3 linked regions of the Homo sapiens genome follow. The protein of the gene in region 2 purifies or fractionates together with the protein of the main gene of each other region. This does not show direct contact. Each region holds a gene or a part of one and is shown on either strand. Other genes may lie near its edges.

Evidence for each region.
Region 1: the proteins of CNPY2 (region 2) and FBXL4 purify together in Homo sapiens (affinity purification with mass spectrometry; 2 studies listed by BioGRID and IntAct, with this or other methods). This does not show direct contact.
Region 3: the proteins of CNPY2 (region 2) and GNB1L purify together in Homo sapiens (affinity purification with mass spectrometry; 2 studies listed by BioGRID and IntAct, with this or other methods). This does not show direct contact.

Annotation. Positions count from the first base shown.
Region 1 is NC_000006.12:98,923,763-98,931,732, forward strand, and holds part of FBXL4 (F-box/LRR-repeat protein 4), read right to left. Parts: intron 4,061-7,970; 5' UTR 3,943-4,060; intron 3,299-3,942; 5' UTR 3,227-3,298; coding exon 2,715-3,226; intron 1-2,714. UniProt on the Homo sapiens protein: Substrate-recognition component of the mitochondria-localized SCF-FBXL4 ubiquitin E3 ligase complex that plays a role in the restriction of mitophagy by controlling the degradation of BNIP3 and NIX mitophagy receptors.
Region 2 is NC_000012.12:56,308,774-56,313,728, forward strand, and holds the end of CNPY2 (protein canopy homolog 2 isoform 1 precursor), read right to left. Parts: intron 3,727-4,955; exon of another isoform or gene 2,642-3,726; coding exon 2,438-2,641; intron 2,282-2,437; coding exon 2,185-2,281; intron 1,823-2,184; coding exon 1,779-1,822; 3' UTR 1,071-1,778; downstream 1-1,070. UniProt on the Homo sapiens protein: Positive regulator of neurite outgrowth by stabilizing myosin regulatory light chain (MRLC). It prevents MIR-mediated MRLC ubiquitination and its subsequent proteasomal degradation.
Region 3 is NC_000022.11:19,851,691-19,859,951, reverse strand, and holds the start of GNB1L (guanine nucleotide-binding protein subunit beta-like protein 1), read left to right. Parts: upstream 1-5,077; 5' UTR 5,078-5,132; exon of another isoform or gene 5,133-5,292; intron 5,293-5,412; 5' UTR 5,413-5,509; intron 5,510-7,465; exon of another isoform or gene 7,466-7,690; coding exon of another isoform or gene 7,691-8,261. Other genes in the region: RTL10 (protein Bop), read left to right, coding at 7,691-8,261. UniProt on the Homo sapiens protein: Acts as a critical regulator of DNA damage response (DDR) signaling via specifically regulating phosphatidylinositol 3-kinase-related protein kinase (PIKK) family proteins.

The DNA.
Region 1 (7,970 bases), on a different chromosome or scaffold from region 2:
TTCTGATTGTATAAAAAATTCACCCAAATGTTAACAGTTACTGAATCTGGGCAGAAGAATTACAGATTTTTTTCATATATATTTTCCTTTTTTTTTGGTATTTTCTAGATTATTTTTAAACAATGAAACATCTATTGATTTCATAATCAGTAAAATTTAAAAAGGCTTTTTCTTATATCTTAATAATATATTGGTCACCTTTTTTTCTCTTAAAATGTAATGGTATTTTCAGTAGACTAAAGCTGAAAATCAGTAAAGAAAATTAGAGATACAGGTATAAATAAAGTTTTAACTTTAATCACAACCATATACCAGTAACTCTCAGTAACCCAAGAGCATGATTTGTACTTAAAATTAGTTATGCAGCTGTTAAGTTTTAGACTGGAGAAAACACATTACATGTTCCATTGATCTCCTCCCTAAATCTTTTCAGATTTTTGGAAAAAAGTAGGTAACTTTGTAAGAAGAATGTCAGAGTCCTAATAAAACAATTCTCATATAAGAAAAGATCCTGCCATGCACAGTGGCTCCCATCTGTAATTCCAGCACTTTGGGAGGCCGAGGCAGGCGGATCACCTGAGGTCAAGAGTTCGAGACCAGCCTGCCCAACCTGGTGAAACCCCATCTCTATTAAAAATACAAAAATTAGCCAGGCATGGTGGCACGCACCTGTAATCCCAGCCGCTCAGGTGGCTGAGGCAGGAGAATCTCATTAACCCGAGAGGCAGAGGTTGCAGTGAGCCAAGATCGTGCCACTACACTCCAGCCTGGGCGACAGAGTGAGACCCTGTCTCAAAACAAAACAAAAGATCCTACTCCATTTTTTCCTCTTAGGGAGAAAACAAAAATCTGATTTTAATTAAGGTATGCTGGCTTTCTGAGTTTAAAAAACGACTAATAACATTATTTGCAATGAATTATTAGGTAGTTCTGGAAAAAAAAGTAAAGATTATACCAGCAATCTCCAAGTTGAGCTGTACTCTGTATGTTTTCTGGCAGGCCCTGGAAGTATTCCCTTAGAGATGAGGGGACAGAGATATCAGAGGAGCTGCATGTTACGGAGGTAGCAGCTGACCTCTGCCCGCCTCCTCCTGCACTGGCAGCTGGCCATCCCTACAGTTGAACAGGTGCCCTGATCTGCTCTCAGGCTAGAATGAGAGCGGGAATTTTTATTTATTTTGTTCACTGCTCGCTGACACATCTCTAATACCTAGAACAACACCTAGCACATTAGGTAGGCACTAAAATATTTAATGAACGAGTGATTTAATAAAGTGATATGAAGTCCTAGAAACTGCTAAGATCCATGAGTAATAGAAAAAATGAGCAAATAATATGATCAGATAGTTAAAGGAAAAAGAAATATAAATGGCTTTTAAACATATGAAAAGATTTCAACCTCAGAGATAATAAAAGAATTTTAACAGTTAACATGAGATAACATTTTTCACCTATTAAATTGCAAAAATATTGAAATTTATAAACATACTCTGTAGGCGAGGCTTTGGCAAAACACCCATGTACATGCCCTGCTAGTGGGAATATAAATAGTACAGACTCTTTGGAGAGAAATTTGGCATTACATATGAAAATTACAACTGTTAAAAATTAAAATTAAATGTAACTAAGAATAAATTGTTAAAATGCAAAAAAAAAATGTTAAACATTACAAAATTATCAAATTATCCTTGGTTGAGTAGCCTTCTTCTAGGAAATTTATCCCACAGATATACTTGCACACATGCAAAGTGACTTATGATAAGGTCATTCCCTGCATTAATGTTTATAAGAGCAAAAGACTAGAAACAACTAAGTGCCCATCAATGGGGGACTAGTTAATAAGTTGGGGTTCATACACACTATGCATTACTTGCAAATGCAGGAAAGAATGAGGAAGCTCTCTTTGTACTTACAAGAAAAGATCCAACATATACTACTGTGTGAAACAAGGTACAGAACAGTGTGATAAATATGCTTACTTTTGTGTATAAAAATATAAAATTATATTTGTATTTGCTTGTGTCTGCACAAAGAAATTCTGGAAAGATACAAAATGAGCTGATAAAAGTGGTTTCTTCGAGGGAGGAATGGGTCCTAGGCACATGGAGAACAGGGTACATGTGAGACTGCATTATATTAATATTTTGTAAAATTAGGAGGTTGAATGACAAAAACGACAGCCAAGGAGCTGTTATGCAAAACAGGCTTGTAGGGAGAATGCATGAATTACTTAAAGCAACATTGATTTTTAAATGAATATGGGTGTTGCAAAAACATTCAACTAACGTTAAACCAAATCCCCTAAGGACCTCCTCTGAAGTGTCACTCACAGGCCTATTGTGAGTTGTTGAAAAGATTTAAAAGTAGTAACATGATGCCTGTTTGAAAATATTTTCAAAGTCATATTTCGTACTAACGTCCCAGAATGGCCCATGTCCCTATGAGTTCAAATTGTGCTTTTTGGTTTTGGTAAATTTTATGAGATACAAATATCATAAGCCATGAATATTACAGTATGAGGTATTACAGGTATAAAGCCTGAATTAAATCTTTATATGAGTGATCTCTCTTCCCCATCAGAAAACTAAGGAAAATTTTCAAAATCAAATTCAATTAAGTTACTTAAAAGAATGCTTGCAATAAAAAAGATCTCCAATATTAACAACCAAAACCTTTCTACCATATAACTTAGGTCATTAAAAAATTAGTCTTACCTTACTTCAGCTGGTGGATTTGGGGAATAAGGATTTGCAGAACAAGCGAGAATTCTAATGACTGCTCCGGGATGATAGGTTTCTAGAACATGTACAGCTGTAGGATACACCTGTTGTTCAAAAGTAAGTTCCACATAGTCCTGGCTCTGAAAATTAGGTGGCGTCCTCTTGAATGGCAAGGAAGCACTAGGACACTGATCCCACCATGTCCCATAAGTTCGAAACACAGCTGTCTGAGTAAAGTCACCAGAACTTGGGAATACATTTGGTACACCAGCCAAATTCCACATAGTATAGGACATACTATTCTCACTTCCATAATGGGAACTGAAATCCACTACTTCTTTGGCATACTGGACTACCTCTGCATTGAGAGGGGAAGTCTGGCTGTTTGATTCTATAGCTCTATGGGTGTTCATCATTTCTCCTCTTGTAGCTGTCCTGGCTCGGCGCCGAAGGCATATATAATAAAACATGGTCAGAACTGTTAACATGGGAAAGACCGGTGACATCTAGATGTGAATTATGAAGCTTCAAAAGGTCAGGTGTCCTCAGTAAGATGCATGAACTCTTTGAAGGATGTTCTAAAAAAATGAATGGCTTGGTGAAGTAAAATAATTTAAATAAGCAGAAAAATGCATGGATAAGGTAATGAACAGGCTCTACCCTCAATGTAATTTCTCAGAATGAAACTAAAAAAACAAGTTTTAAAATACAAATGTGAAGTCTGGTATAAATAAATTTTCTAATGTATTTTTAAGAAACCTAAATATTGTTATGCATACAATATGGGAAGCAAAACTATATTATAAGGCAATTGGAAGATATACAATCCAAAAAGCCGTATTTTATACAAAATTATAACCATCACTCAAGAAATACTAAGTCTTTGAATCTGAAAATTAAAATTATTTAAATTATATGGTGAACCACTAAAATACTGCTGTAAATTCAAAATAATCTTAGACATTGCTGTAATTTTACATGTTAACAAAAATTCCCTACTGTTAATTATTACTCTCTTTCAAACATACAGAATTCAGATTTCACATTATGGGAATATAGTTCTTTGGTGCTGACAGTTAATCCAGATGAACTACATTAACTGCCTTACACATCACAGATCACAGATCAGTGTTTAATTTATAACTCCTAGCATTATTTGTTAGGGCAGTCCATGGCTGGCTGGCATCTGGTTTGTTGCCAGCTACTCTTAGAAATCACTCACCCCAGATAGAATGGTCACAGGATACACATGGGAAATGCAAAAGTTGGCATTCATCCAGGTACCCTGAACTTTGCATGCTGACTTCAGGTACAAATGCTGACATGTGACATTCTTTTACCTGTAAGAAAAGAGTTTTGGAAAATATTTTTATGTCCAAGTCACAAAGTCAAAATATCCAAAATTATAAATAGCCACTTATTCAACCCTTCAAATCAAACAGGCCACATTTTTCTATTTTGTACACAATTTTAAATAATGTATTTTTTAAATGTTATGATAGAATATAATAAAGATTTAATAATGAACGCTATCTATAAAGAGGTTGCAAACTCACAGCTTTTGTTTCAAACTATGTTTGTATACATATTTCACTGAGGCCAAACAGTGTTTTTTAAAAATTTGATCTAGTTTGTAACCTTTAACAATCAACAAGATCCCAAGAGGCATGAGCTCTCTCAGTGGCCACTCTCGTTCCCAGCCAGCTCCACTCATTTACAACATAGGCTGGGGCCCATCCTCATTGAGTAGGTAAACTTTTGTTGACAACAAGGAACTATAAAACAAACTTATTTTTGTACCTGTAAAGTCTTGAGTTTAACTTCTAAGAAGGGAGATGTACCAACTTTTCTTTTTTTTTTTTCGAGACAGGGTGTCTCTCTTGCCGCCCAGGCTGGAGTGCCCTGGCGCAATCTCGGCTCACTGTAACCTCTGCCTCCTGGTTTCAAGCGATTCTCATGCCTCATCCTCCTGAGTAGCTGGGACTACAGGCATACACCATCATGCCCAGCTAATTTTTTGTAGTTTTAGTAGAAACAGGGTTTCACCATGTTAGCAAGGCTGATCTCGAACTCCTGACCTCAGGTGATCTGCCTGCCTCGGCCTCCCAAAGTGCTGGGATTACAGGTGTAAGCCACCACGCCCTGCCCCAACTTTTCTTTAATAGAGCAATGCACTAGTCTTCCAAAACTTCAGCACTAAGATTATAAAACATTATTTGCACTAAATGTCCCTTCCACTGAAAAACCTCCAATGCCTTTTTCTTATCTGCAAGATATAATCTAAATTATTTGGTTTGGTATTTTAAGGCTCTCTTCAAGCTGGACCAATCTCTTCTTGTCTAACCCAGCAAACCCAATCAAGTTCTAACCACTCTTCGTATTTTACGTTAAGTCTCGCTTCCTCTATCATTTCTTTTCCAACCACTTTTTTCCACATCAGTAGCCTTACTTTCTGATACCTACTGGCACTGCATTTTTATGAGATATATACCTTAGTTCCACTAGGGTTTATATTAGGAATAAGTCTCTTGAAGGAGGGAATCTAGCCAAAGATCTTTATTTCTCAAAGTACACAGTACATAATAGGCACAAAATATTTGACATGTTGATAGGTGATGAGCAAATTAAAAATTATAAAAATCTAAAATAATTTTAAATTGTATAACAGCATCCTTTTGCCTCTCAAACCCAAACAGATCCAAACACAATGAAATATTTAAAAATATAAGCACTGAAACACTACTTAAATAACTGAACTTGAAAGAAGTGCAGAGAATCCACAGTAGTAAGAAACTAAGAAGAAAGTTAGCTGGGCATGGTGGCTCACGCCTGTAATCCCAGCACTTTGGGAGGCTGAGGCAGGTGGATCACCTGAGGTCAGGAGTTTGAAACCAGCTTGACCAACACAGAGAAACCCCGTCTCTACTAAAAATATAAAATTAGCCAGGCATGGTGGCACATGACTGTAATCCCAGCTACTCGGGAGAGTGAGGCAGGAGAATCGCTTGAATCCAAGAGGTGGAGATTGCAGTGAGCCAAGATCATGCCATTGCACTCCAGCCTGGGCAACAAGAGAAAAACTCCGTCTCAAAAAAAAAAAAAAAAGAAAGAAAGAAAGTCAATGAGCAGAAAAAAGAAAGTCAATGAACAGAGGTCAGGGGCTGAAGCTAACATGACTCATGGAACCAGTTACAGGCCATAATGGTTACAAGGGGACTCCCTAACACCCATTCAGAGACGTTATTTAAAGACACAGGTCACAGTTGGAAGGACCTTCATAAAGTCAAAACTCTGAAAGGATCACCCTATCCATGAAACCAGGACTATAAAAACTTAGCTTACTGGCCAGGAAACCCAAGTAGGCATGACATCAACTAAGGCAATGGGGGGAAAGTCACCAGAGGAAATCAGAACCATATGAGGCATGAACCATGCATAGAGTGTGGGCCTAAATTCACACAACCTTCATGGTTTAGAATCCCACCCTATCCTCATGCCAAAAACTGAAAAAAGAAAAGTAGTCCTGAACTGGTAAAACTTTAGGACCTGGTAAGAGCAAATGTGAAAACTCTTTGCAGGAATGCTTCCAAAACATACAACAGACTAAACCTTTACTAATGATGCATCACAGTAAAAAGTTACAGACCAGAATAGAAAATGAACCATGATGAGAGATAGTCAGTGGACTCACCAAATGGAGGGATTTGCAGCACAAGAACAAGAAATAACAGAATAACCAGAATAAGACTTTTTCCAAAGAAGGGCAACAAAGCATATATTAAAATAAATAGGCTGGGCATGATGGCTCACACCTGTAATCCCAGCACTTTGGGAGGCCCAGGTGGGAGAATCACTTGAGCCCGCCGGGGCGGAAGTTGCAGTGAGCCGAGATTGCACCACTGCACTCCAGCCTGGGTGACAGAGCCAGACCCTGTCTCAAACAAACAAATAAATAAATAAGGTGTTTCTGTAACACACACTTAATGGATGTGCTCATGAGTCAATGAACCAGATTCACCTCAGGACATATAATAGCAAGTACTGAAGTATGTCATGTTATAATTGGGGGAAAAATAACTACCTGTTATATTACTTCTTTATTCAAACATTTCACCTACCACAAGTATAAATTTGTCAAATTAAAAAATATATATATTTAAGGCTGAGGCTGGAGGATAACTTGAGCTCAGAAGTTCAAGGCTGAAGTGAGTCATGATCGTGTCACTGTACTCCAGCCTGGACCACAGAGCAAGACCCCGTCTCAAAAACAGACAGACAACTTTTTGCCATTCAAGTCTCAATCCTTAACAAAAAAAATTGAAATGGTACAAATCTTTCTTTTACCATATACACTTTATTTCAAAATAGGGCTGCAGATAAATTAAGAACCATTTTCCAAAGAAGTTGACTATTCTCTTTTCAAAAAGAAAAAGAATTAACAAGTTAAACTGCAAAAATAAAATTTAGGAAATAAAGAACAACCTATAACATGTATTCAAATCAATTGACAAATCAGCTAATTTAGAAGACTATGGATGTGTTATTCCTGGAAACCATCAAGGGAAGGACAGAAAACCATCTGCCACAGTGGATGAATAAGTTGACTGCTTAATCTCTGGACATCACTTCTCACTCCACGGTCTATAAATTGCTTCAACTAAGCTCCTCCCCCTTTCTTTATAAAACTGTGTTGTGCATTTTTGGCAAAAAGATTTTAGACAAATTGTGAAAGTCAAATTCTGTTTGACATACCAAGCTACAAACTTTGAAACTGTTTCCCAGCTTTTACCATTGTAGATTATAAGATAATATCAAAAGCAAGACTGTCATATGGGCAATATTATGTTTAAGCTGTGTTAAAGTTAAGCAAAATTTTGCATTGAGGCAACATATGTAAAAGTGAGTTATAAACTGTAAATATATGTGTTATATGTTCAAACTTCTTCAATATAGAAATGTAAAATGGATGCTTTAGTTTTTTTCAACTATGGATAAAAATAATATTTAATGCTAATTTTTTCAGGAAATAAAGTTAAAAATGGCAAAAGAAATTTTTAAAGGAAGGAAATGCAGAGTCTGATATACCAAAAAAGCAAATATATTTATTCTTTTTCCAGCAGTGCTATTTGGAAAATGTTATAGAAGTTAAAACCTGTTTTTGAAAATAAGCAAGGCATAGAAATAAAAAAGAGAAATGTACAAACCCATTGCTAACGTCCTTCATTGATTCTAAACTCCTTTCCAATCTGC
Region 2 (4,955 bases):
GTGCAAGGTATTATTAGAGAAAAAAGACTTAAAATAGAAGGTACTCTATAGCTATATTAGATCAGGTCAGCACTTGGGAAAGTTAGCTTATAGACCCAGTTTTGCCATTAAATACAGAACTTCATAAAGTTCTATGGCTTCTCTGGGCCTCAGCTTCTTCATCAATAAAATGGGCAGAGGTGAACCAGACGACCTCTAAGGTTCCTTTAGATTCTAAAATGATGTAATTTTTAAAACCTTTGAAATGTTTATTCAGGTCTTCTCTCCTTGAGGTGTTCTTGGGACCGGAGATATTCCATTTGAAACCCTGAGACAACCATACCTCAAGCTCAGAGTGCTTAAGAATTTTCTGCCAGGTGCGGTGGCTCACACCAGTAATCCCAGCATTTGGGGAGGCCAAGGCGGGCGGATCATGAGGTCAGGAGATCGAGACCATCCTGGCTAACACGGTGAAACCCTGCCTCTACTAAAAATACAAAAAAATTAGCCAGTGCAGGCCGGGCGCGGTGGCTCACGCCTGTAATCCCAGCAGTTTGGGAGGCCAAGGCGGGCGGATCACGAAGTCAGGAGATCGAGACCATCCTGGCTAACATGGTGAAACCCCGTCTCTACTAAAAATACAAAAAATTAGCCGGGCGTGGTGGCGGGTGCCTATAGTCCCAGCTACTTGGGAGGCTGAGGCAGGAGAATGGTGTGAACCCGGGAGGCGAAGCTTGCAGTAAGCCGAGATCGCGCCACTGTACTCCAGCCTGGGCGATAGAGCGAGACTCTGTCTCACAAAAAAAAAAAAAAAAAAATTAGCCGGTGTGGTGGCGGGCGCCTGTAGTCCCAGCTACTCGGGAGGCTGAGTCAGGATAATGGCGTGAACCTGGGAGGCAGAGCTTGTAGTGAGCCGAGATCGCGCCACTGTACTCCAGCCTAGGCGACAGAGCGGGACTCCATCTCAGAAAAAAAAAGAAAAAAAGAATTTCCCAAAAGAAGGTATCCTTTAGGTTTTCATCCCTATGCCCCAGTCTGGAATCTCTACACACAGAATTGTGGACAGACTTATAGTCCAGATTGACAATGGCTAGTGATAGATACACTTTATTGTTGCCACTGGCATCAAATTTAAAAGCTTAGGCTGGCAAGCAAGGCCTCTCATTAAACAACCTTCCTTACCTCGTCTGTCCCTATCCGATAAAGCCCTTACTTTTCAGCTGAGTTGGTCACATCCATTTTCCCCTTCCTGTCTCTGTTCTTGCTGGTCCCTCCATCTGGATGGGCAGGGAAGGAAGAATAATGCATATCCGTTATTTCCTTCAAGACCAAGCCCTGTCTTACTTTATGTTTCAACAGCCATGAACACAAGGGATTTCTAGAATTCTACACTACCATACACTATGTTCCCCTGCTTCCTCATGGAGGTTCCTCTATTCTCCACAATTAGACTCTAAAGACGTGGTATTGAGTGGGCACTGACTGAAAGCTTATCTAGTTTATGAGTGGAGTGGAATCTCAGAAGGTAGAAGAATTAAAGGTTCAGGCCTCTCCTACCTTTATCCTGTATCAATCCCAAAACTCTTCTTTCTCCTCCATTATCTTTCCTGTCTATATAACTCCTTATCTTCAAGCTTAATGTAAGGGCAATTCCAGGCATGAAAAGACAACACAGTTTGTACTTTTGGTTTCATATTTTTTCAGTTAATTTCAGTAAAAACATAATATATAAAAGGCATTGCCACCATTTTCCCCTCCTGGGGGTGATCCATCAAGCCAGTGTGGGCTGCTCCAGTGGTTCATAGCTCATCATGCGATATGTGCAGGGCATGGTCACAAAGATCTGCAAATGGCAAACAATTTAAAGGAATATGCCATTCTCATACTGATATCTGCCAGTATCAAGAAAATTTCCCAGACCAAGCTGACACAAACACACACCAACCACCATTCTGCAGAATATATGCTTATAAATGATAAAACATCCCCACTGTCCTCTCACCTGTATCTCAGGGTCAAGGGGACACAAATTCTGAAAGCTGACAGAAAATGTGGAGGAACACCCCAAGTCCCTAAGCCAAGGGAAATGGAAGACAGCTCTTGACCTAATACCAGAGGTTTCTGGGATGGGGGTGTATGGGTGAGTTAGGGAATGTCAGGTTCCACAGAGCTACTAGAACAGGAGATAAAGTGGGGGCAGCTTACCTGTTCGCTTACTGCAAAGTTTGTCTTTAACATTGTCAGCCTCTCGGGAAAAGAATTCAATGAGTTCATCCTCGTATTCCTCCACAATGCTCTCACACTGCCAACCCAAGGGAGAAATGGGTGACACAGGGCAATAAGAGGCCTCTTGCCTTCACTTCCAAAGAGGAGGACAAGGATATCAGCCTAACTTTCTAATTGGTTCTCCAACAACCCCTTAATGTCCAAGAACCAGCTACCGATTCCCATAGCTCACCGCAAACTTGAGGGTGCCGCTAATATCTGAGTCGATTCGGATGCCTTGTAGGTCCAGTTCACTGGATTCTCCATTCCGGCCCACTACACGTACGTAGTTCTTGCGATGGGTGGAAGGATCAATCTGTTCCCCATACTCCTTCATCCGGTCACATATCTCCTCCAGCAGCTCTGTGAGGTGGGCCTCTGAGCGGGCATAAGGCACCTAGAAATGTCCTCAGCCTTGGGTCACTCTCTTCTACCTCTGTACATTAGTAATTTATATCCTTACTTTTCTTTCCAAATCTAGCTCCAACAACCTATTCTAAAAAGCTTTCCCTAATTGATTTTAATTAGTTTTGTTTGTTTGTTTGTTTTTTGAGATGGGGTTTTGCTCTTGTTGCCCAGGCTGGAGTGCATTGGCGCCATCTCGGCTTATTGCAACCTCTGCCTCCTGGGTTCAAGTGATTCTCCTGCCTCAGCCTCCTGAGTAGCTGGGACTACAGGCATGCACCACCACACCCAGCTAACTTTTGTATTTTTAGTAGAGATGGGGTTTCTCTGTGTTGGTCGGGCTGGTCTCAAACTCCAGACCTCAGGTGATCTGCCTGCCTCGGCATCCCAAAGTGCTGGGATTACAGACGTGAGCCACTGTGCCTGGCCTAGTGTGGTTTTCATTTATTTTATTTTATTTATTTATTTATTTTTTTGAGACGGAGTCTCACTCTTTCGCCCAGGCCGGACGCAGTGGCACTATCTTGGCTCAGTGCAAGCTCCGCCTCCAGGGTTCACACCATTCTCCTGCCTCAGCCTCCCGGGTAGCTGGGACTACAGGCGCCCACCACCACGCCCAGCTAATTTTTTGTATTTTTAGTAGAGACGGGTTTCACCGTGCTAGCCAGGATGGTCTCGATCTCCTGACCTAGTGATCCGCCCACCTTGGCCTCCCCAGGTGCTGGGATTACAGGCATGAGCCACCGCGCCCGGCCTGGTTTTAAATTAATATGGTTTACTTGATAGTTTCAAAGTACTTCTTTTTTTTTTTTTTTTTTTTTTTTTTGAGACAGGCCTCACTCCGTTGCCCAGGCTGGAGTGCAGTGGTGTGATGACTGAGGCTCACTACAGCTTGGATCTCCCAGGCTTAGGTGATCCTCCCATCTCAGCCTCACACAGATGCACACCACCACACCCAGCTACTTTTTTATATTTTTTTTGTAGAGACGGGGTCTTGCCATGTTGCCCAGGCTGGTCTCGAACTCCTGTGCTCAAGTGATCTGCCTGCCTTGGCCTCCAAGAGTGCTGGGATTACAGGTATGAGCCACTGTACTTGGCAGTAGTTTCAACTATATGATTTTATTTTACCTCATTGTACAATTCTTTTTTTTTTTCTTTTTTTTTTTGAGATGGAGTTTCACTCTTGTTGCCCAGGCTGGAGTGCAATGGCGCGATCTCGGCTCACCGCAAGCTCCACCTCCCGGGTTCAAGTGATTCTCCTGCCTCAGCTTCCCGAGTAGTTGGGATTACAGGCATGTGCCACCACGCCCAGCTAATTTTGTATTTTTAGTAGAGACGGGGTTTCTCCATGTTGGTCAGGCTGGTCTCAAACTCCCAACTTCAGGTAATCCACCCGCCTCAGCCTCCCAAAGTGCTGGGACTACAGGCATGAACCACCGTGCCCGGCACCTCATTGTACAATTCTAAGAAACAAGACAGTTAACATTAGCTCCAAGTTATAAACAGAATTTTTTGATTAACCTGATCAACTTATACTTCTAATTTCTATAGATGAAGATAATTTTTTTTTAAATTATAGTTTAAGTTCTGAGATACATGTGCAGAACGTGCAGGTTTGTTGCATAGGTATACATGTGCCATGGTGGTTTGCTACACCCATCAACCTGTCATCTACATTAGGTATTTCTCCTAATGCTATCCCTCCCCTAGCCCCCAACACCCCAACAGGACCTGATGTGTGACGTTCCCCTCCCTGTGTCCATGTGTTCATTAATATTTTATTTTTGGCCGGGCGTGGTGGCTCACGCCTGTAATCCCAGCACTTTGAGAGGCCGAGGAGGGTGGCTCACTTGAGGTCAGGAGTTCGAGACCATCCTGACCAACATGGAGAAACCCTGTCTCTACTAAAAATACAAAATTATCCAGGTGTGGTGGTGCATGCCTGTAATCCCAGCTACTCGGGAGGCTGAGGCAGGAGAATCGCTTGAACCCGGGAGGCAGAGGTTGCGGTGAGCCGAGATCGTGTCATTGCACTCCAGCCTGGGCAACAAGCCCTAAACTCCATCTCAAAAAAATAATAATAATTTTGTTTAAATTGAGACTAATATCCTCAGTAAGCACAGTATTAAAGATGTAGTGTAGGCTCTGTGAACAACAGCTATTAAAGTACCATAATCTTTTTTCTTTTCTTTTTTTTTTTTTGAGAGGAGTCTCGCTGTGTCGCCCAGGCTAGAGTGCAGTGGCACCATCTCAGCTCACTGCAAGCTCTGCCTCCCGAGTTCACGCCATTCTTTTCGTCTCAGCCT
Region 3 (8,261 bases), on a different chromosome or scaffold from region 2:
CAAAGATCAGCAACAGGGCAAAGATACCCGCTTTTGCCACTTCTATTCAAGATAGTACTGAAAGTCCTAGCCAGAGCAATTAGACAAGAAAATAAAAGGCATCCACATTGGATAGGGAGTAAAATTATATTTTTTCACCAATGACATGATCTTATAGCGATTCTATAAAAACAGAATAATTAACAAATTCAGCAAAGTTGTCAAATACAAAATCAACACACAGAAATCAGTTGCATTTCTATATAGTACTAGCAGTGAACACTTCATGAAGGAAATTAGCAGTTTCATTTAAATAGCATCAAAAAGAATAAAATACATAGGAATTAACCAAGGAGGTGAAAGACTTGTACACAGAAAACTACAAAATATTGTTGAAAGAAATTAAAGAAGACATAATTAAATGGAAAGACATCCTGTGTTCAATTATATCCATTTAAAGACACAATTAAATGGAAAGACATCCTGTGTTGGAAAGTTTAATATTGTTCACATGTCAGTACTACCCAAAGTGGTCATCAGAGGCAATGCAATCCTATTAACATCCCAACAGTGTTTTTTTAGAAATATAAAAACCTATCACAGGCCAGGTTCGGTTGTTCATGCCTGTAATCCCAATATTTTGCCAAGCCTAGGAGTTCAAGACCAGCCTGGGCAATATAACGAGACCCTAGCTTTAACAACAACAACAACAAAAAGCCAGGTGTGGTAGCACATGTCTGTAGTCATAGGTACTTTAGAGGTTGAGGCAGGAGGATCACTTGAGCCCAAGAATTTGAGGCAGCAGTGAGCTATTATCAGGCTACTAAACTCTAGTCTGGGTGACAGGGGAGACCCTGTGTCTAGTTTAAAAAAAAAAAAAAAAAGGCCGGGCACGGTGGCTCACGCCTGTAATCCCAGCACTTTGGGAGGCCGAGATGGGTGGATCACGAGGTCAAGAGATCAAGACCATCCTGGCTAACACGGTGAAACCCTGTCTCTACTAAAAATAAAAAAAATTAGCCAGGCGTGGTGGCGGGTGCCTGTAGTCCCAGCTACTCAGGAGGCTGAGGCAGGAGAATGGCGTGAACCTGGGAGGCAGAGGTTGCAGTGAGCCGAGATTGCACCACTGCACTCCAGCCTAGGCGACAGAGCAAGATTCTGTCTCAAAAAAAAAAATAAAAAAAATAAAAAAGAAAGGAAGATAAAACCCATCCTAAAATTCATATGGAATCTGTAGGAACTCCTAATAGCCAAAACCATCTTGAAAAAGAACAAACTTAGAGGCTTCTCACTTCCTGATTTCAAAATTTAAAACAAAGCCACAGTAATCAAGACTGTGTAGTTTGAACACTGTACTTTCCTGAAAAAAGAAAGACAGACATACAGACCAATGGAACAGACTAGAGAGCCTGGAAATAAACCCTTGCATATATGGTCAAATGATTTTCAACAAGGGTACTAAGATAGGGAAAGGATAGTCTTCAACAAATCATGCTGGGACATCTGGATATTCAAATGCAAAAGAATGAAGCTGGATCCCTACCTAACACCGTATGTAAAAATGAACTCAAAATGGGTCAAAGTCCTAAATATAAAGACCTAAACCTATAAAACTTAGCAGAAAACATAGGGCAAAACTTCATAGCACTGGATTTGGCAATGATTTAGATATAACACCACCACTACCACCAACATATAGACAAATTAGACTTGGAAATTAATGAAATTAATTTAGTGAAATTAAGTTAATGACATTTTAATGAAAATGAAAAACTTCTGTGTATCAAAAGACACTATCAACAGAGTGAAAAGGCAGCCTATGGAGAAATACTTGCAAATGATATATCTGACAAGGGATTAATATCCAGAATATCTAGAAAAATCTTACAACTCAACAATAAAAACAAAAATCCAGTGAAAAATGGGCATAGGACTTGAATAGCCATTTCTCCAGTGAAGATATACAAATGGCCAATAACAGGAAAAGATGCTCAATCTCACTAGTCATTAGAGAAATGCAAATTAAAATCACAATGGGACACCACTTCATACCGTTAGGATGGCTATTGGAAAAAAACAAAAGAGAAGGTAACCAAGTGTTGGTGAGGATGTGGAGAAGTTGGAACTCCTGTGCACTGTTGGTGGGAATGTAAAATGGTTCACTTGCTATGGAAAAGTTTGGCAATCTCTCAAAAAGTCAAACAAAATATTACCGTATCATTCAGCAATTTCACTCTTATGTACTGAAAGCAGGGACTCAAACATATACTTGTACACTAATGTTCATAGCAGCATTATTCACAATAGCCAAAAGGTGAAAACAACCCAAGTGTCAATCAACAAATGAATAAACAAAATCTGGTCAATGTGTACAAAGGAATATTACACAGCCTTAAAAATGAAGGAAGTTCTGACACATGCTACGATGTGGATGAACCTTGAAAACATGTTGAGTGAAATAATCCAGTCACAAAATGATAAATACTGTATGATTCCACTTATATGAGGTACCTAGAGTAATTAAATTCACAGAGACAGAATATAGAATGATGGTTACCAGGGGTTGCGAGTGGGAGGGGAAGAGGAGTTAATGTTCTGGAGTGAAGAAAAAGTTCTAGAAATAAATAGTGATCACTGGATATACAACAGCATGAATGTACTTAATGCTCCTGAACTGTATACCTAAAAATGGCTAAAATGGTAAATGTTACTATATTTTACCACAATAAAAAAACAGTCATATGTCACTTAACTGTGGGGATACACTCTGAGAAATGTGTCACTAGGCGATTTTGTCATGGAGGGATCCTCATAGAGTAACTTACACAAACTAAGATGGTAGAGCCTACTACACACCTAGGCTGTATGGTAAGGCCTGTTGCTCCTGGGCTACAAACTTGCACAGTGACTCTACTGAACAATGTAGGCAATTGTGACACAGTGGTATTAGTGCACCTAATCATAGCAAAGGTACAGTAAAAGTACAGTGCAAAAAATAAAAAATAGAACTGGTTAGGGCACTTGCCATGAACAGAGGTGCAGGACTGGAAGTTGCTGTGGGTGTGAGTGGTGAGTGAATGTGAAGGCCTAAGACATTATTGTACACTACTTTAGACTTTATAAACACTGTACACTTAGGCTGCAACACACTTATATTAAACATTTTCCTTTTTTTTTGAGATGGAGTCTCACTCTATTGCCCAGGCTGGAGTGCAGTAGCACAATCTCAGCTCACTGCAACCTCCGCCTCCTGGGTTCAAGCGATTCTCCTGCCTCAGCCTCCCAAGTAGCTGGGATTACAGGCACATACCACCACGCCCGGCTAATTTTTTGTATTTTTGGTAGAGACAGGGTTTCACCATGTTGACCAGGCTGGTCTCAAACTCCTGACCTCAAATGAGCTGCCCGCCTTGGGCTCCCAAAATGCTGGGATTACAAGCATGAGCCTCCACAGCGCCTGGCCTAAAAATTTTCTTTCTTCAATAATAAAATAACTATAGCTTACTGGATGACCAGTTACATATGTGGTCCCTAGTTGACCAAAACGTTGTTATGCGGTGCATGACAGTTATACACAGGAGAGGGCCTGAAAGAAAAAAAAAATTTGGACCAAAAAAGGCCTTTTCTGGCTCAGTTGGATTCATTTCTTCCACAGGCCCACTGCCCACTCTGCTGATGGGCGCTGAGCTGTAGACTGAGCTGCCTTGAGGCTGAGGTAAGCTGAATTTGTGGGAACCCCCACCTTTCCCTTGAGGGAGGAAGTTTAAATTATCAGGTCAATTAGGAAAGATACAACCGAAAAAAATCCAAATTTCATTCCCACTTCAAGGAGGCGTTTCCTGGCTCGGTGCCACTTTTATTATTTTTGGCCCAGGCTGCTGAAAGCCCCACAGACCCAGGGAAGGTACAATGTGACCTTTGATTCGCGTTTCAGGGATCAAAGTGAGTGAGTTTGGGTGTAAATGCAGATAACATTTCAGAGAGCTTTCATGAAAGGAGTCACTGGACCAGGGCAGAAAGGGAGCTGGTGTGTTACGTGTGTGTTCCCCTTGAGAAGCGTCACTTTCCGGTGAATCCGGCTGCCTGCCCGTGGCCCCAAGGACTCCTGGCTTGCATCCAGGTCCTTGGCCCACAGGCATCAGATCCTGAGCTGGGGCGCCTGCACCCTCTCCCACCTCTTCTCTAGGCACCGTGAAGCCGAGGAGAGGTGGCGTGGGACGGCTTGTGCAAGTGAGAAGAGCACCACCACTTCATCCTCACCTATCTTGTCCCAGGATCTGGGTGCTGACTCGGCAGGCTTGGGCTGGGCACGGCCCTGTGGGGAGGGCTTGGTAGCCTGCCCTCGCTGTCGTCTCCGGGTCCAGCCTCGGCCTGAGTCGGGAAGCACACAATTATATCCACAACAAGGAGGCCCAGAGGCCCTGCCTGCAGCCCCCAGGTATGCAGGTAGAGGGTCCTCTCGGACTGCCTGCCCCCTGCCTCTGGCGCCCAGCCTGCAGCTACGTCGAACCGGGCCCTAACAAGGTTCCCCGCACTGGCAATGAGTGATGAGAGGCACTCCGCGGGCACGCCGTTCCAGGGCGCTCACGAGGCCCAGCAGCCCCGCTATGCCCACATCCACCCCGACACCTGCAGCCCCCCAGGCTTAGCCCGGCCCCGCAGCAGCCCTCTCGACGCCCAGCAGCACCCCAGTGTCTGGCTGACGCCAGGGCAGTAACGGCGGGCTGAAGCAGCATCGGCCCCTCGGTCTACGCCACAGCCGGGTGCAGATTTCCCGGATCTGAGGGACCGCCGGGCACCGTCCGCTGGGGATCATGAGGGGCAGCTTTGGCCCGACCGTCTCGCGCCTGTACACGCGGCCCCACCTGATCCCGTGGCACTTGGCGCGGCGTGGGAATGGGCGCGCTCTCCCATCACCCACCGCGCGGCACTGCCGCGCCAGCAGGGACCGGGAGAGCCTGCGAGGTAGCGGCCACACGGCATACAGCGCAGGCGCGGCCTGGATGGGAGGAGCGCGTGGAGCGTGCCGGGAGCATGCGCCGGGTCGTACACGGCGGCCGCGCGCACGCTGGGGGCGTGGCTGCGCGATGTAATCGGTCTCTGGACGCTGCGCGGCGCTCCTAGGAGCAGGCGTTCCCGACTCCGGCAAGAGGGTCAGTGTGGAGGCGGGAGCCCGGGCGGCCGGCTTGAACTCCGTGCACGCGGGCCTGGAGCTGCGCCCCTGCGTCTTTTCCCGACTTCTGATCCGCAGAGGGGCACTCGGAGCCCCAGCCTGGGTCGCAGTGCCTTCGGTCTGCGGGCCTCAGTTTCTCGGTCCGCGCCGGGGGTTTGTGGGGGCACCTGGAGACATTTGGGCCGTTCTCGCAGTCTCGGGAAGCCGCGCCCGCTCCTTGCCTGGCCTCACGGCGGCCGATCTCGTTCTCCACTTTCTAGGTGGCGCCTGGACTCTCGCCCTCAGAGGGAGGCCCGTCCCACGGTCTGTGGCTACGGATCCCAGGACCCTCTTCGCGGGCGATTCGCGTAGCCTCAGGTGGGTGGGCTTCTTGTTGCCGTGGGCCTTGTGAGCTCGTATTTCCTGCATGGCGGTTGCTGGGGGGCGGGCGGTGCAGTCGTCTGCACTCAGCTTGCTTTAAGGCTTTGGGCAGGTTTTGTTCTTGGGGCTCCTGGGTCTCCCCAGAGCAGAGAACGGCTCCAGCGTTCCAGGTGCTGCCTTTGGCCTTGTGGGGGCAAACACACATGCGCCGTGGTACCTGCCCCTTTAGGATAGTGCTGTCCAGTCTAGAAGGGCCGAAAGTCTTCTATGCCAGGCAGTGTGGGGAGAAAAGTAGGGGGACCAACAGACTGATAGGCGTGGGAGGGCTAAGGTTCTCAAAATGGTGAGAGTGCGGCCCAGGGTTAGGAAGGCTCAGGCCCAAAGCAGGCCTGGCTGGCTGGTGCAGGGAAGCCTTCTCCCAGACTGCAGGGGACACAGGTGCGCAGGTGAGTGGGCAGGGTAGGGGACTGGGAAGAAGGGAAGGCAGAGATCTGGGTAGCACACTGTGGCTCCCGGGCATGGGGTGTGGTCATTGTGGGCAACCTGGATACCTAACCTTGGCTGGTGGTGGGAGCTGGGCCCTGGATCGGGGTCACTGCTTTTTTAGAGCTCAGTGAGGGACTGGACTGGACTCGACTCACGTCCAGGCCTTAGTATAATCCTGCAGTAAGGTGGGAAGCCAGGGTCATGGGCTGGGCTTTCAGGTGAAGACCCCCCCCCCAGAGGGGGGTCAGACCTGAGGGATTCCAGAGTGTTTGGGTGGTGGAGGTAGGGCCAGTGGCCCTGGCAGGTTCTAGTGCTGCAGGCCACCCTGGGAGGTACCTGGAGGAACTCACCCTGAGGGGGGATGGCCAGCAGATAGGAGATGTGGGATGAAGGTGTGTGCAGGCCTTGTGCTCCCAGTGAGCCGGTGGCGTTTGTGTGTGGGGTGAAGCAGAGAGTTTCCTGGAGGTCGTGAGTGGGCCTCCGTTTGCAGAGAGACTGGGGAGGGGGCTAGATAGAGTTAGGCTGCAGAGTGTAAGAGCCCTACAGGAGGGCTCCTTGCACTGGAATAGAACTGGCTACTGGCTCTGGAGCCTCCTAGGTGACTGCTGCGTGGAGAAGGAGGGGCGGGTCCAGCCATCAGACTGGGACTCCCCAGACCCTGGGCACAAGTGACTGGAGTGGCGGGAGCAGACAGCAAGTGGGGTTCCAGGATTTTACAATGGTGGGGGCTGGGATGCTCTGCTGTGGCTGGGATGGGGACTGTGGAAAGGTGGTGTTTGTGGGTGGGGGTGGCATTGCCTGCAGGTGGCACTCAGTTGTGAGAGGTGAATTTGGAAAGCATGTGGGGTCAGGAGGGAGCAGAGAATAGCAGGCTCACTGCTCTGTCGGGGAAGCAGGTAGGACCTGCTGTGTGCCTGGTGCTGGGATGTAAAAGAGCCTAATGACGACGCGGTCTGTGCGTTGTTCAGAGTTTTTGGGGCGGCTAGAGCCTACTCAGCAGACAAATGTAGTTTATAATCGCGTGCTGTATAGTAGTTAAGCCTCTGGTCTCTCCAGCCAGTTTTTGCTGCTTCCACCACTTATGGGTTAGTGTGTGGCTGCAGACAAGTTACTTCACCACTGTGTGCCTCAAAGACAATGCTAGTACCAACCTCCTGTGGGGGAGGTGGCACAAATGGGGCACTCAGTGAAAGGTTACTACTATTGCTATCCTGAAATTCCTGACAGTTCTGATCTGGCCCCTTTTCTTCTGAAATTGACAGCATCTGTCATTCTGCCTTGCCCTTGCAATGTCATAGGCAGCATTTGCCCACCTCAGACCTCCCAGGCCAGCCCCCTGGGCCCCTCCTTCCATTCAAAGCTCCTAGTTGGGTACCAGAGGGTTGCCCGCTTGTAGCCTCTTCCCACCAGTCCAGTGGGTGATGGTTAGGCCTAGTTCCTGCTCTTCCCCACCTTGTCTTTGGACAGATTGCCTCGGATGATGGCCTGCGACTGACAGTCTCTCAGCTCTTCTCAGCTCTCCTGAGGCTGCAGCTGTCAGCTCCCTGATCCTCAGCACTTGCCTGGACCAGTGCGGGTCTGCCACGCCCTGTTCAGCCATCCCTGTCCTGTTGTGTCGTGCAAGCCACATCTGTCCACACCCCCACCACCCACCAGTGCTGGCTCTCCTCTCTTCTCCCCTGTGCTCCCAGCATGCCTCGTGGCCGGTGCCGTCAGCAGGGCCCTCGCATTCCCATCTGGGCAGCCGCCAATTATGCCAACGCACATCCATGGCAGCAGATGGACAAGGCGTCTCCTGGGGTGGCATACACCCCCCTTGTGGATCCCTGGATTGAGCGGCCCTGCTGTGGGGACACCGTGTGTGTGCGAACGACCATGGAGCAGAAGAGCACAGCTAGTGGCACTTGTGGCGGTAAACCTGCAGAAAGGGGTCCCCTAGCTGGGCACATGCCCAGCTCCCGACCCCACAGGGTGGACTTCTGCTGGGTACCAGGCTCAGACCCAGGCACCTTTGATGGCTCCCCGTGGCTACTGGACCGCTTCTTGGCCCAGCTGGGCGATTACATGTCCTTCCACTTTGAGCACTATCAGGACAACATCAGCCGTGTCTGCGAGATCCTCAGGCGCCTAACAGGCCGAGCCCAGGCCTGGGCAGCCCCCTACCTTGATGGGGACCTGCCCCTGCCTGACGATTACGAGCTCTTCTGCCAGGATCTCAAGGAAGTTGTTCAAGACCCGAACAGTTTTGCTGAGTACCATGCTG